2 linked regions of the Homo sapiens genome follow. The protein of the gene in region 1 purifies or fractionates together with the protein of each later gene. This does not show direct contact. Each region holds a gene or a part of one and is shown in the gene's direction. Other genes may lie near its edges. The genes, in order: PPP1R1A and JMY.

Region 1 (7,548 bases):
AGAGTCGGAGGTTGCAGTGAGCTGAGATCGTGCCACTGCACTCCAGCCTGGTGACAGAGCGAGACTCTGTCTCAAAAAAAAAAAAAATGCATCTCAAGAGGTCATCTAGTCCATGACCCTGCTTTAGGTTCAGCCATTACCCTGCCATGGCCACCAAATCTGGTTTACTGGGGAAAGTGCTGGCCTGGCTTCTGGACCTTGGAAGAGCTGTTCCTCCCCATTGCCTTGATTTCTCCTCTCTAGCCTGAAGGGTTCAACTGGCTGTTCTTGAAGTCTCTTTCACCCTACCAGTGGATTTGGGGATTCATGAAGAGGCAAAGCACTTTGAAAATGAGCATCCCCTCTGTTTGAATCACCAGCTCTGGCCCCATTCCCAAGACTGCCAGCTGCAGGGAGGGTGTGCACTCAAGCCTGACAGAACTGCAACTCTGGGCTTTTCTCACAGGCAAACCAGGACTTGCACAGTCAGAGGAGGCTGGACTTCCAAGTCATCCCCTAGGAGGCCACCCATCTCCTCCAATGCTGCTTCTGGGGCTCACGAGAAGCTCTGGAAACTTCTTGCAGGGAAGTCTTCTAGATGGGCTCAAAACCCCGCAGGACAAACAGTCTCACTGCCGGGCACCTACATCTCTTTTCCAGATGAAGGCTTACTCCCCACCTGGCCTCCCTCTGTCTTCACAAGGGTTGGCTCCTAAAGGCTATTGGTCATTTCCAAAGGAGCAAAGCCACCCTAAAAGACAATGATTCACCCCCCATGGGGATTTTCAGAGCATATGCCTCAAGCTCTGAGATGATTCCAAGAGTTTCCAGAAATGTTTGAGAAACTGCAGCACGTTGGCATGAGCATATGGCTTCCTGGGGGACCACTTGGATGGGGTCGCTGCTCCTTTGGGTGCATAACAGCAGTCTCTGCCCTTATCTCCTCAGAGCTGTGTGTATAAAAAGTGTGTGTGCATCATGTTGTCAACAAGCCGGAGTGTGCCTCTGCCACACTGCCCAGGCAGGGAGAAAGGCAAAGATACAGATAAGGTCCTGGGGCTCCTGGGTTCTAACCCTGTTTCTGAGACATGCTGGCTGTGTGACAGGAGCACCCTCAACTCAGAATAACAGAATATTAGAGCAGAAGAAACCTGCAAAGTCACCCGGTCCCCTTCATTTTGAAGATTAGGAAACTGAGTCCGGTTGGGGGTTGGGGGAGCAACCCCAGAGTCACCCAGAGAGTTGATAGCAGATGGAGGAATTGAACCCTGACCTTTCATATCCTGGCCCAGGTGGCCCATCTTAGCAACACCTCTCTACACTACCCTCCCCTCGAGAAGCAAAATAAACACCCTAATACCTGTCCTCCCTCCTGGGTGGTTGTGAGGGTTAGTAGGGGTGAGAAGGGTGGATAGATAAAAACAGAAAGTGCTGACAGCGACAAAGAGCAGCCCCATTAACCCAGAGTCCAGTGCCGAAAATAGGGGAGGGTGAGAGTCATTAAGTGACTGCATCACCCAGTCACATCCCTGTAACTTTAAATATTTCATGGAGCCAGCAGTGCACCACATACAGCTGCTGCTCCTCCAGCCCAGGCTGTGACTGCAGCAGGGCTGTGAACACAGGCGCCTAACATAGAAACATGCAAGCTGAGGGAAGGAGTTGGGATGAGGCAGGCTCTAACTCTTACTCACTCTAGGAAAGGTTCCAAGAGCAGGCATCAGGCCCTTTGCAGTGCCCCAGGCCTGTGTGTGAGCAACCCATACCTTCATACACCCACCGGCCCAACAGGCACTCACATAGCTATGGACATAAATAAAAGTCAAAATGACAATAAACACACACCTTCACAGACAGACCCATTCCAGCTTACCCGGCACCAAAGGCTGCACCCAGCCACACTCCACCTCCCTGCTAACCATAAACGCTTCGCCCACTTTCCCCAGTCTCCTCCTCCCAAAGCCAGTACTGGGAGCCATCCCTCTTCCCTCTCCCTCCTCTCTCCTCCGCTGCCTCTACCCCAGCACCAGCTGCTGCCGGGACCCCTCTTCCCACGCAGCCCCTCATCAGCCATCTCTCCAGAGCTCAAGCTCTCTTGGTCTCTCTCCTTACCCGTGGCTTTCAGGACAAAGGACTCTGAGAATCCGGGACTTGAGAAGGCAACATAGGGTGGGTGAGAGACTTGGGGAGGAATTTCCATGACCAGACCAAAGTTTGAGGGAGAGCACGGAATACGAAAGAGGACTAGGCAGCCTGGATGTCTGGGGTGGGGGTGGAGAGGTAACCACTCTGAGAGGTGACCACCCCTCAACTCTGCCGTCCTGCCAGGAAATAACAATAAAACCAGCAGCTACAATTAACCGTGACCTTCTATGCACCAGGTACTCTACCCAAGATGATACTCAACCCTAGGAGGTGGGATCCTCTGTCTGTTTTACAAATGAGATGGAGGCTCATGAGAGAAGCCTGAGTCCCCAGACATAGGGATGTGGGAATCCTGGCTTCACATCCCATGGTCCTGGTAGAATGGGATGGGGAATAGACAAGTCACCTATTTAGAGGATATTTGGGATCCTGCTCTGTGGATGTGTGGTTAGGAGGTGGGGTGAGTAGGAAGGAGGCCAGAGCAAGCAACTGGGCCCTAATGAGCCAGGTATCTCCCTAGCCCCCAACCGTTATCCTCTCTGCTTCAGGGCCTTCACGATCTCTTTCTCCACTGTCACTTCTTGTGGGGGGATCTGCGCAAAGGTTGGGAATGGAGACGGGGAAGCCCAACCAGCTGTTTTCCACCTGGCCCTGCCACACCAGAGAGCAAAGGGGCCCTGCAAGTGCAGGCTGGGTGTCAGGAGTCAATCCTGGAGTCCAGGTGACAGCAAAACAGGGGCCAGTTAACCTGCAGACAGAGGTCCAGCTGGCCCACTGGGTCCCCATAACCCCAGCCTTACCCTGAGAAAACTGAGCCCGACATGTGTAAAAAGATATGGCTGGGGGGAAGGCAGGACAAGTTATTTTGTGAGGTTAGAGGGGAAGGGGCCTTGTGAAATCAAGGTCTGGAAAGGGCTGCCCAGGAGAGGAGGCAACTGAGAGTTGAGGCTGACACCTTAGAGGAGAAGATGACCATATGGTTCTCCAAGAACCAGGCATGAATCTGTATGGCACTTGCCAGTTGCTTGGTTTAAGGCTAAAGAGACAGACCCCTTCCCCTCTTCCAGGACTCCCTGTGCCCTCCTCCCCATCCCCAGTTCTTCTCTCCACCTTCTCCTCCCGAAAAGATGCATCCAGCCCTACCCCTCCCCAGTGCCCAGCACATCCCCTCCCCCATCTAGTGATCCCCAGTCCTTAGACCGAGCACACCAGCTCCTGTGAATATCCTGTCTCCCTCACTGGCTCGTATTGACTGGCATCTTAGTCTTCCACCAAACTAGTCAGTTCTTCCCATAGTCTAACCTCCATTCCTTCAGTTACAGCAGCTCGTTTTCAGTATCCTGCCAATAGTGAAATTAGAAACCAACCCTATCTGTAAACAAGCCACCCCACCAAAGGAGTTTCTCTCTCCCTCCCCAGGCATTTTCCCCTTGCAGGCCTTTCACCTACTTTACCATCCCCTAATTTAGCAAGCAGAAAGAGAACTCGATTTCACAAGCAGGATTGGCTCCCCACCATCGTTATTCCTTTTGTCGAGTCCCAGATGGTCCTCTCTCCCCAAGCCCTCCACCCACTCCCACAGGCACTTCGAGAGAAACGCGCCCTCCGGAGACCCTCTGAAGTCTTCAGTTTCCTCTCCCTGGCACTGAGGGAACACAGGACGGGTGTGCAGACTTCGTATTTCCCTCCAAGTTTTTACCTCCGCCTAGTGTTTTCCTTGCAAAGGAAAGTCCCTCTCGAAGTCTAACCTTAATCCCTCCTGCTGCATGCCTAAATCCCCTTTCCATCTTTTCTCTATAATACAACCCCCTTTAAAATCATAAATGCAATCTTCCTCTCGCGTTTAGTCTCCTCTCCTGCAGCGCCCCTCTACTTTCCTAGCCCCAACAACCTGCTCCGGCTAGGAGAAGTTCTTCCTAGCCACTCCCCACCCCAACGCCCTGCCCAAAACTCCGAGGACACTGAGGTATCTGCCTGAGCTGTCCACTACGACGGCTCCCGGGCCACGCCCGGACTCGGCGGCCCGCGGGGCGGTGACCCCCGCAGCCGCCGGTGCAGCCACGACGGGGTTAAGGTTCCGGGCTGGGGGAGGGGGAGGGGGCCGGGAGGGGCGGGTGCGGAGCCAATCGGCGGCGGCAGAGTCCCCGGAGCCGCGAGCTGGGAGCGCTGTGCCGGGAGCCGGGAGCCGAGCGCGCCGGGCTGGGGCCGGGGCCGGAGCGGAGCGGAGAGGGAGCGCGCCCGCCCCAGCCCCGAGTCCCGCCGCCTTCCCTCCCGCCGCAGCGCGGGCCCACCGGCCGCCGCCCCAGCCATGGAGCAAGACAACAGCCCCCGAAAGATCCAGTTCACGGTCCCGCTGCTGGAGCCGCACCTTGACCCCGAGGCGGCGGAGCAGGTGCGGAGCAGGGCGGGGCGGCAGGGCACTCGCCCAGCCAAGGACGAGGGACCCCTGGACTGGTGGGACCCAGGATCCCTGCCTAGTCCTCCCTTAGCAGTGCGCCCTTTTGAGGACGAACGCTCAGTTTGCGGGGGGCGGGGGGGGGTCTTCTGTCCCCTCCCCCACCGTCGGAGCCACATCTCGAATCTGTGCTTCTTTGAGACTGACCGAAGGAAGAGCGCCTCCACTCGATGCCTGGCCCCGCGAGAGTCGCTCTCTTCCTCCCCAGTCCTGGGGGAGGGGGCCTGCTTGAGGACACGACCCCTCCCTCCTTAAACAACCCTGCATCCCCCACCCAGTCAACCCCCACTAGAGTTTCTGAGCTTGGTGGTGGCGCTGAAGGGAATCAGCAGCAGTGCGGGAGGGGCCTGGGGAGGGGTCGGTAATGGAGAGGGAGCCTGGAAGGGTGGGAGTTGGAAGAGGAGAAACAGCTCTCCCTGTCCCCTCCTAACTGGGGGCCACCTTGCTGGGCTCCGAAAGTGATAACAGGAAGGGACTGAGGACCACTGAGAGGGCTGGGGCTCCAGGGAGAGGGGAGAGGGGTGGTCGAGTTGTAGGCTGAGGCTCCCTTCTTCAAGTCTCCGCACATGGCCCTTATTCCCAACTCCTGCCCTTTGGAGTGGGGAGTCCAGGTGGGACTGAGCCAGCAGCACTGGGAGGCCAGAGGTGGAGTCTTTCCAGGGGCTGGGGTCCAAGCTGAACAATATGCAAGGGAGAAGCACTGTGACAGCCTTGGCTCAAGGGGTGGGAGTCCAGGGCCCTGGCCCAGCCTCCTAGCCTGGTCTATTTTTAGCTCAGAGCAGCCTGGCAGAGGGGGCAGTGTATGAGAGTGTGTGAGCAAGTGTATGCCTCGGTGAGAGTGAGCGTATGTGTGGAGAGGGTGGCCACCCGTGGTCCTTACTACTCCTTGTTTGCCAAATATTTGCTTATTTGCCTATTGCTCCATCTCTTTGTAATCTCTGTCCATTTGCCTAGACATTCCCATTCCTAAAGAATATCAATTTCCCACAAGGTCAGTTCTCTGTTTCTCTCAACAAGCTGCCAGGCTCTGGCTGGCCACCCCCAACCTGAAAAAAACTTTGTGACCTCTTGGGATGAGGTGGAGAGAGTGTTTTTTGTCATTTTTGTTGCTCCAGCTGTTTGGTAGAATAAGGTCTGATGTGAAGGGAAGCGGGCAGGGGTACACACTCTCCCTACCACTTCAGCTTCCCAATGTGGAGATAGGGTTAGGTACCTGCGTCTCCGTCCTCTCTCTGGCCTGGGGTGAGCCACCACCTCAGAGCTCTAAGGTGTGACTACGGGAAGGCTCTTGGTGAAGCCTCACAAATCTGTAGAGGATGAGGAGGATGGAGAGCCATCAGCATGGGTTGTGTTCCCTGGGAGTCAGGGGAAAGGCTGCTATGCCTGGAGGCAGGGCATCAGCCAGGATAACCTCAGACCCAGGAAAAAGGGCTCAAGAGTCTGGACTGTGGAGGTTGGGGATGCAGTTCCAAGGAGAACTGCCTCCCACTGGCACAGACAGGGCCCGACACCTGTATCTGTTGGGTGTTGGAGGAGGCAGGTGTAGTAGGTGGGTAGGGAGGAGGAGGAGGAAGGCCAGCTGGTTCAGGGATCTAGGAGACAAGGGAGGGGCACAAGGCAATCCTGAGGAGTCAGAGGGAAAAAAGAGAGCCGGGACTTGGGCCTACTTTCACTAATCTTCAGAATTTGTGTCTCTTAGGCCTGAAATTCTTCCTGTGGCCTAACCTCAGCCCCTCCTGCTGTGTTAGGCAAAAAGCTCCAGGCTTGGCAGGTGCTCCTAACCCAGACCAACATGGGAGGGCAAAAGGAGTTGGAAGCTCTGAGTTATAGAGCACAGAGTGGCAGGCGGTGGAGGGGTGCCCACAGCTTCCAGATCCTTGGCATGACTGCTTTGGAAAGAAATCCGAGGCGAAGTTATCACATGCTCCTGAGAGCTAGGATTTGGGATAGGTATGAGAAAAGGAAAAGAGACCATCTACTTATTTCCCACTAGTTCAGGTGCCTGGGAGGTACCTCAGGAAGTCTGACTTTCCTCCTTCCTGCTGTAAGGGTATCACGATTCCCAAGGACTCTGAATGCTTAGAAACCTTGTCCAAAGCAAAGGAATAGGTCAAGGAAGTGATGTGTCCAAGACCAGACAGCCCTGCTGCCCTCTGTCATACTTGCAGTCTCTTTCTTGGGCTCCCCACTCTGATGTTATCTCAACCCACTGATCGCCACTCCACCCTCCTTGTCTCTTTCCTACTACCACCACCACACCCTGCCCCTCCAGGATGGAAAGAAGTAGAGGAGTCTTCTAGTTGAAGGATGGCCCCCACCCCATATACATGAAGCAGATGGTCCCCAGCCCATGTGTATCAGGAATGACCAGAGACGACTCACAGTTAATGTCTGTGCGGCTCATCCATGTGCACACTTACACACATACACAAAGGACTGGTACTGCGGGGACCTTGCAATGTCACCAAAAACAGATGCCACTGAATTCTCCTGGGAAAATGATGCCCTACCCCCACATACCCCCATTCTTTGCATCCTGTTTCTTCTTTGGAAAGAGTTCCCCCCTCAGGCTTAAACAGCCCATCTTACCATAGCCAGTACCCCCCACTTTTCTGGGCATAGAGAGGGGCAGTGTTCACCTCTGTCATCCCCCCACGGCCAGTGGTGATGATTCTAAATAATGGACATGCAAAGATAAGGGTTTGATCATTCAGTGTCCTCATCCTACTCCTCTCAGCCCAGGATAATTCTAGCCCTTTTCCCAGCCCCATTTGCCTTCCCTCCCCACTGCTAACCTAGAGGGTCATCCTCTAACCCCCATCCTTCCACTTGCTTCCAAGCCTCTAAAGCCTCCAGAGAAAGGGGGAAAACTACACCTCCCAGGAGTCCTTGAACTGACTTCAACAACAATCAACTTTATTGGCAGCGTGACAAAAGAACAACAGTGGGGGGAAAGGGGGCTCAGAGGC
Region 2 (7,697 bases), on another chromosome or scaffold:
GGGAGGCCAAGACGGGCGGATCATCTGAGGTCAGGAGTTCGAGACCAGCCTGGCCAAGATGACGAAATTCTGTCTCCACTAAAAATACCAAAAATTAGCCAGATGTGGTGGTGAGCACCTATAATCCCAGCTACTCGGGAGGCTGAAGCAGGAGAATAGCTTGAACTCAGGAGGCACAGGTTGCAGTGAGTCGAGATGATGCCACTGCACTCAAGCCTGTGCGACAAGAGTGAAACTCTGTCTCAAAAAAAAAAAAAAAGGTATATCAGTGTGCTTTCTTTCCCTGGCAGAGGATTTTAACAATTCCCCATCTATTTATAATTCCTTGATAATTTCTCTGAACATACATAATCTAATAGAATATGAATGCATACTAGTCTTGAAGATTAGCTACTTATTTTTGTCTTTCTCCTACAAGCATGTAGCTAAATTATGATTAACTAAGGTTATATTCCCCTCTTTCAGTTTTAATTCGTCAAGTATTTATTGAGCATTGATTATATACCATGGTGGATATGAGCTTAGGATTTGGACAGTGCTGTCCAGCAGAACGCCCTGTAATCATGGAAATGTTCTATGTTTACCCTCTCCAGTAGGGTAGTTTTCAGCCATATGTGGCTAATGAGCTTTTGAAATGAGGCTTATGCAACAGAGGAACAGCATTTTAAATTAAATTTAAATAACCACATGTGGCTTGTGGCTACCTTACTGAACAGAGCACCTCTATAGATCTCAGTTCTGCAAACTTAACTCTTTAGGAAAGCTTCAGTGAGTTCCTTAACCTGTCTTTGAAATGTAAATATTATATACCTTCTGGAATGTTATGATTTCATGAGTTAATGCATATAAAGCATTTGCTATAGCACTTGACATAGAGTAAGACCTGGATAAATATTAGTGATTATTACTATAATTGTATGTTATGTTTTGTGCCAGTATCCCAGAAGGGAATACAGAGAAGAAAAAGATACATAATTTCCATGCTTAAGATGTTTACTTGCCTCAACCAACATTTCAGGGTTCACAAAGCATGCTGTTGACTAGGTGATGTGACATTTTGTATGGGCCTTGCCAGAAACTTCCAATAGTAAGAAGCTGTGATGTGGTAGACACAGCCTGAGTCTGAGCTGAGGTGGGGTTTTTGAGGTCCTTGTCCAGGCAAGGAGATTGGTTTTTAGTTTTCATTTTATTTGTCAATAAGTAGATTATTCCATAGGTGCACACTATATATTTCAAAGAGTCTAAATACAAAAAGGTAGGTTCCACTCTAAAGGCCTTAGTTTATCTTAAATTCTGTTTTCACCATATGAATTCTGTTTTGGCAGCAGTTAAAGTTTAAAATGTTTTAGTCCCTGTCCTTAGTGCTTTATGTGTATTATCTTGTTAAATTCTCAAACATAACCTTTTATGCTATAAGCCCAAAACCATTATCTGAATTCCCTGAAGACAGATATATTTCAGAATCCCAGGGTTTTTTTAGATTTTAGAAAGGTAAGATAGAGCATATAACTTCAGACAAGTGTTATTAGTCCACTAATGAAACACATGGTCACATTAAATGGAATACCTAAGGATTAAAAATAGTTTATGAAAAGTTCAGATCACATTTTTCCACAAATGGATTGTGAGATTTGGTTTGACATTAAATTATGGGAATTTTCCATTTTCCAGGATTTCTGACATGTGGAATTCAGATAATTCTGTCAACTTGTGTTACCCATATTTGTGCAGTTGTTACTGGTGAAACCTGTATTTATACTCAGGCTTGTCTGTTACTAATTCTCATGTTCATTCTTTCTACATAATAGGGCTAGTTTTGGTTGAAAACTTGCCCTTAACATCATTCACCTTATGCTGTCCAAGGTTTTTATGACCCTTTAAAAAAAAGATATAGCCTTGCCCTGTCACCGATGCTGGAGTGCAGTGGCACGATCATAGCTCACCACAAGCTCAAACTCCTGGGACTCAGAGTCCCTACTGTCTCAGCCTCCTAAGTCACTAGGATTACAGGCACATGCCACTATGCCTAGCTATGACTTATTTTCGAACCCTCATTTCATTTCTTGTTGACTGCATATTTTCTGTAACTCAAACAGTGGTGGATGCTCAGTGAGTATTTTTTGAATGAATGATTCAGTCCACAGGTAGCTCTTTTAATAGTTCCTCTAATGTCATTGGAATTTTCTAGCACAGTAGGGTAAAAGGCAGAACAAGGGCATAATTCATTTGCATAGTTTGCAAAAAGTGCCATCTGGTTTCATGATAAAGTACAGTCAAAATAGGTATACATGAAAACTACTTTATCATTATTACACATGGTGAGAATGATTGTGGAGTCAGCAGGGTATGTTGTACTTACATGGATGTATGGACATGAATTGGTACTTCATCCCCTTACTAGATTTGCTGTAAAACAATAACAATAACACTTTGATATTTTTCCGTCTTTTTGGGCTGGTAATCCCTAATTTTTTCTAGTGGAAAGAGCACTCTTGTAGGAATCAGGAGAACTGAGTCTAGCTCAAACTTTGCTAGTCATTACCTGGATCACATTGGGAGGTTACAATTTGGTTTGGGGTACTGGTATCCTGATACTTGAAGTATGTTTAGGAGAGTAAAAGTTGAGCTAAGTTAAATTTTAAGATGGCCAATTTTTCCTTTGAGTATTTAAACTACTTTCAGGGCTTCTTTCTTCTTGCCCAGGGAAGCACTGCTCTCAGATATAAAAAAGACACCCCATTGTGGCACCCACCTTCCCTGCACTGCTCCATTATCTGGAATTAGTTCTCTTTTCACCCTGGATTCTGTTTCTCTTAGTTCTGTGGCTGTCAGCTGAGGACAGGAAAACTCAGTCTGGAAATTTCAGATGTTAAAACAGGGAGGAAATTTGGAGCAGGGTGCCCGCTCCATACCTCTTCATGCCTTATACTAAGGATTTTGCCTCCACATTGAAGATTAGATAGACCTCAGAGTATTATTTTGCCCTCACAGATTTCTCTGAGTCATAGCATCCTTTTCTCCTTTGCTGATCTCATAAAAGTCCTGTATGTTCTGGTTCTACAACCCTTTAGCTTTTCCCAAAGTCCACCACTGACCTATTGTTTGTCCTTTCAGAGGTTGGGATTTAACAGACTCCTTCACTGCTTGTCTGCCTCTGATGAGGTTTTGGTTATCTTTAGACCACAGCCCTTGGCAAATCCACGTCTGGACTCTTGGTCTAGATAGAACTCACCGAACCAAAAAATTGAGGGTGAGGTCACTGCTTGTAAGAGAATACCTACTTCCTTTCTCAGTTTGATTTTTGATATTGAGTGTGTGCTGGTAGCACTGCGCTTCTCAAGTGCTTTTAAAGTACCCTGGCTCTGGGCTGCAGTCAGAGTACTGTTCTCTTTGTGGTTGAGAAAGCTGACAGCGTAAAGGCATGTCACTGGGGGACTTTCAACTTTTTTCCTTAGCCAAGAGATTGGGCAGGAGAGAGAAACTTACAGAGTGCTAGGGGAAGAACTTAGCAGAGCATCATGAACGTAGCAGAAAATGGTCACTTAGTTGGGTAGAACCAGAGTAGTGAAAATGAACTCACAGCCTGGATCTGAACAATATCACTGGAAAGTAATCTTAGATTAAGGTTTTTAGACTGGTTTACACTAAGGTTTTAACTTAACGATTCCCCACTTGAGAATAAAGCCTTCTAACATTAGATATCTTACCTGTTTGTATGCTGTGGTAATAGAGAGTGTGGGTGCAGATACTGGAACAATGTATATCCTACAGCTGTGTTTGCAGAGCTGGGCAAGAGCCCCAAGAGAGTATGAAAAGGGATGTTTATCATCTAAAGTGGCGAGTCCACGAGTCTCAAGGTAGACATTATTCCTTGGTTCTTATTTTATGACTTAGGACAAAAACAACAGTTCATATTGTTCACATTCCCCTCCCTAGCTGCTATAATTAAACCCACTTTGGGGTTATATACGTTGTTTGTCACCCATAAAATATTTCCTAACACAGCGGGATCACTCACAGTCTTACACTTAGATAATCTATTAAGTATCCGTTTATAAAATATTCATAAAACAAAGTACCACTGTATTTAATTCACCTGGTTATTTTTAAATTTTTACAACTGCACGTTTAGACTGGAGCCTAACCATTGCTTTTCAGTTCAAAATTCTTGTGAAAGGGATTTGAAATTATATTTTAAGGAAAAATATTCTAATTATTGGGTAAGACTGTGTAGATATATAGACTGTAAAGCAAAAGCTGGAATTTTCTTTAAAACGTATTCTTTTTATGTGCTGACAGGTTTTACCAACCTCGCCAGACAAAAGGGATCATTTAGGAAAATAAGAATTCACTGTCTTTTTCCCTGTAGGTTGTCCCTGTACAGCCAGTCAAGTATTTCTTTGGTATTCTGGGACCCCAGTGATGTCTCACATGAGCTCGTAAACAATACTCTTAATAATTTTCCCTTTTGTTCCTCTCGTCTCCTCCTTTGAAGGTCACTCCTTGGGAAGCCACTTGAATCCAGGGCTCCTCACTATTGCTCCTTTGGCTCTGAGGGCACACTGATGCCCGTATCGGGGCTTTCCTGGAGCTGCTAAGCATGAACCTTTAAACTACCAAAGCAGTGGTGCTATGTTCTTGGAAGAATGCTTACTGTCTCACTCTAGAGAACTATGCTTGTCCTTCACATCTCACTGACTCTTGAAAAGCCATTCCTTTGGCTTCTTTTATCTGCCTTTTTCCGTACAGCCAAATAGAAAGCCATAGAAATAGTAGGGTTAGGAACCAGTTATCTAAAGTACACTTTCCCCTTGGTGGTTTCCTTCATTCCTGGCAAAAATTTTCCCACTCCAGCACCGAGAACTGACCAACCAAGCAAACCTCACAGAAGACCATCCTTCACTTTATGAGCCATGCCCAGAAATTTCTGGATCTCACTTTAAGTTCAGCCTAGGACGTTGATTACATTTACCTAAAGTGACACCTTACGGATTGCAAGGATTTCCATCTAAAGCAATTGTCTTCTGCTGTTCCAGTCACATATTCTCACCTCACTCTATAGTCAGCAGATCCCAGAACCTAGCCAGTCTGTGACCATGGAGCAAAGCAAAACCCCAGATATGTGGCATTAACCAGCTTTTACCATTCTTGTAAATATCTGAGAATAGCCCCGTCATTTTCATATATCTCTGTGAAAAGAACAACTACATAACTTAGCATCCACTTTTGAGAGGGAAAGCATTTATATCCAGATGATACATATATTATTACCATAAATATGCATAAGTATAACATAAACATTAAAACCTTATTTTTACCATGTTTGCCTACTTCCACCATATAATATGACTTGATTATTACTGTTTTATACATATATATATATATATTTTTAAAGTCTAGATTCCATGCCTACAAGTTTCTTTCTGAGAGGAATTACTTAATAGGTTTATGCTATCTGATTAGTATTAATTTTTAATACTAACTCAATTTTCTTGTCCCCACCAGCTAGAAATTTTTTAATTTGTATTTTCAATGCAGATGCAGAGTTTGCGGGGTGGTACAGAAGCGATAGCACGATTGGATCAGTTAGAAGCTGATTATTATGATCTGCAACTTCAGTTGTATGAAGTACAGTTTGAAATCTTGAAGTGTGAAGAGTTACTATTGACAGCGCAACTAGAAAGCATCAAAAGACTTATATCAGGTATGGCGTGCATTTAACCACATAAGTTCACCAAAGATTGAATACATGAGAAAATACTTATGGACTAGGTATGTTTCTTTTGTTAAGACATTTAAAAAATTGTTTTCTGTAGGGATAGAGTGTGGGGGGGTGATTTCTAGCATTTATTGAGCACTTACTGTTTGCCAGATACTGCTAAACACTTTGCATACATTCACTCTATGAGGTGTATTAAATAATAATCACCACTTACAAAGAAGCTTAAGAGATAATGGCTTTGCCTGAGGTTGCAGAGCCAGTAATGAGATTAGAACCTTGTTCTTTCCAAACCCTAGCCCATATTCTTTACCACTACTCTTTTTTGCTGTTCTGTAACAGAAAAAAGAGATGAAGTGGTATACTATGACACTTACGAAAGCATGGAGGCCATGCTGGAGAAGGAAGAGATGGCAGCATCTGCGTACTTACAGAGAGAAGAGCTGCAGAAACTTCAGCAGAAAGCACGCCAGCTGGAAGCAAGACGTGGACGGGTTTCTGCCAAGAAATCCTACCTCAGAAATAAAAAGGTATTTAAATATTGCTTTTGTTCATTATTTAGTCTTTTATCCGTATCTACTAATCTCATCTGTTTTGTCTTTAAAACTTGCTTATGTTTTAAAACTAAGTAAGCACTATCTCTTATCAGTGCTCAATGCGTTTATAGTGCTCTGAGAATTGCCCTCTTAAACACATTGGAACAGCCAATAGTGATGTTCTCTTTACCTCTAGAAACACTAATGGTGACTCTGCTAAAGGCCTTGACTACAGGATCCCTGATAATGTGATTCCTGGCTCCCTTTTTATTTAAGGAGGCCCAGCGATGTTTTTTACAAGCCCTGATTCTGACCTTAAAGAATTTTATAGATTGTTATTTCTTTATTTAACTTTGATTACATTTTAGAATGTTTGATTCTTGATATTTGGAATGACTCATTTTGTGGAAATGTGATTCTTCCTGTGTCTTAAAAAATGTTTTGCACTCTAGTCCAGATGTTAACTATCGTGGAGCTGTTTCTAGTCACTGTAAGTGTAGAGTTGGAATCTGGAACTAGCTCTCCAACCTAGACCAAACTGATGACTGTGTGGTACTGATTCGCTTTAAGCTCAAGTATTATAAAAGTATGTCATGTTCTCTGAGAACCCACCTTCCTGCTCTTCACCACATTCCAAGGCTACCACTTCCTCATTCCACAGAAAATCAATACCTTTGCTTTTTGAAATAGATAGCTCTTGCACATTAAAGAAACTCAGACAGGCATGTATCCACAGTAAGTCAAGAACCCAGGACCTTCTATCACGTTGTCCATCAACAGAACAGTTACCTTGCCATCCAGAGCCCTGGCTTTCACATAATTATGTGCCTTTGCTATTTCCCCGTGACAGTGGTAATTGAAACCCACTGCTGTGTCAGCCCTGGTTGTGAGCTTCATTTCACGTTCCAATCTGCACCAACCAGGTAAACATTGCAGGCTGGGCGCGGTGGCTCATGCCTGTAATCCCAGCACTTTGGGAGGCTGAGGTGGGTGGATCACCTGAGGTCAGGAGTTCGAGACCAGCCAACATGGTGAAACCCTGTCTCTACTAAAAATACAAAAAATTAGCCAGGCATGGTGGCACGCGCCTGTAATCCCAGCTACTCGGGAGGCTGAGGCAGGAGAATCGCTTGAACCCAGAAGGTGGAGGTTGCAGTGAGCCAAGATGGCACCATTGCACTCCAGCCTGGACAACAAGAGTGAAACTCCGTCTCAAAAAAAAAAAAAAAAAAACATTGCAGTGATTTCAGCAGGTCTTATAGAACAGTTTTAGGGGAGAATGAAAAGTAAATAAGATTTCAGAAGAGCACATTTTTGAGGAATATTAGGAGTATTTTATATATTACTTTTAGGTGTATAGTGCAGTACTTTTGAGACTCGGAATTTGCAAACCTGCAAGTTTTTGAAAATGCTATGCAATTCAGACTTAATTGAAAGTCTGA

The links.
Region 2: the proteins of PPP1R1A (region 1) and JMY purify together in Homo sapiens (affinity purification with mass spectrometry; 3 studies listed by BioGRID and IntAct, with this or other methods). This does not show direct contact.

Annotation. Positions count from the first base shown.
Region 1 is NC_000012.12:54,585,373-54,592,920, reverse strand, and holds the start of PPP1R1A (protein phosphatase 1 regulatory subunit 1A), read left to right. Parts: upstream 1-4,261; 5' UTR 4,262-4,432; coding exon 4,433-4,516; intron 4,517-7,548. UniProt on the Homo sapiens protein: Inhibitor of protein-phosphatase 1. This protein may be important in hormonal control of glycogen metabolism. Hormones that elevate intracellular cAMP increase I-1 activity in many tissues.
Region 2 is NC_000005.10:79,294,615-79,302,311, forward strand, and holds part of JMY (junction-mediating and -regulatory protein), read left to right. Parts: intron 1-5,538; coding exon 5,539-5,704; intron 5,705-6,061; coding exon 6,062-6,249; intron 6,250-7,697. UniProt on the Homo sapiens protein: Acts both as a nuclear p53/TP53-cofactor and a cytoplasmic regulator of actin dynamics depending on conditions. In nucleus, acts as a cofactor that increases p53/TP53 response via its interaction with p300/EP300.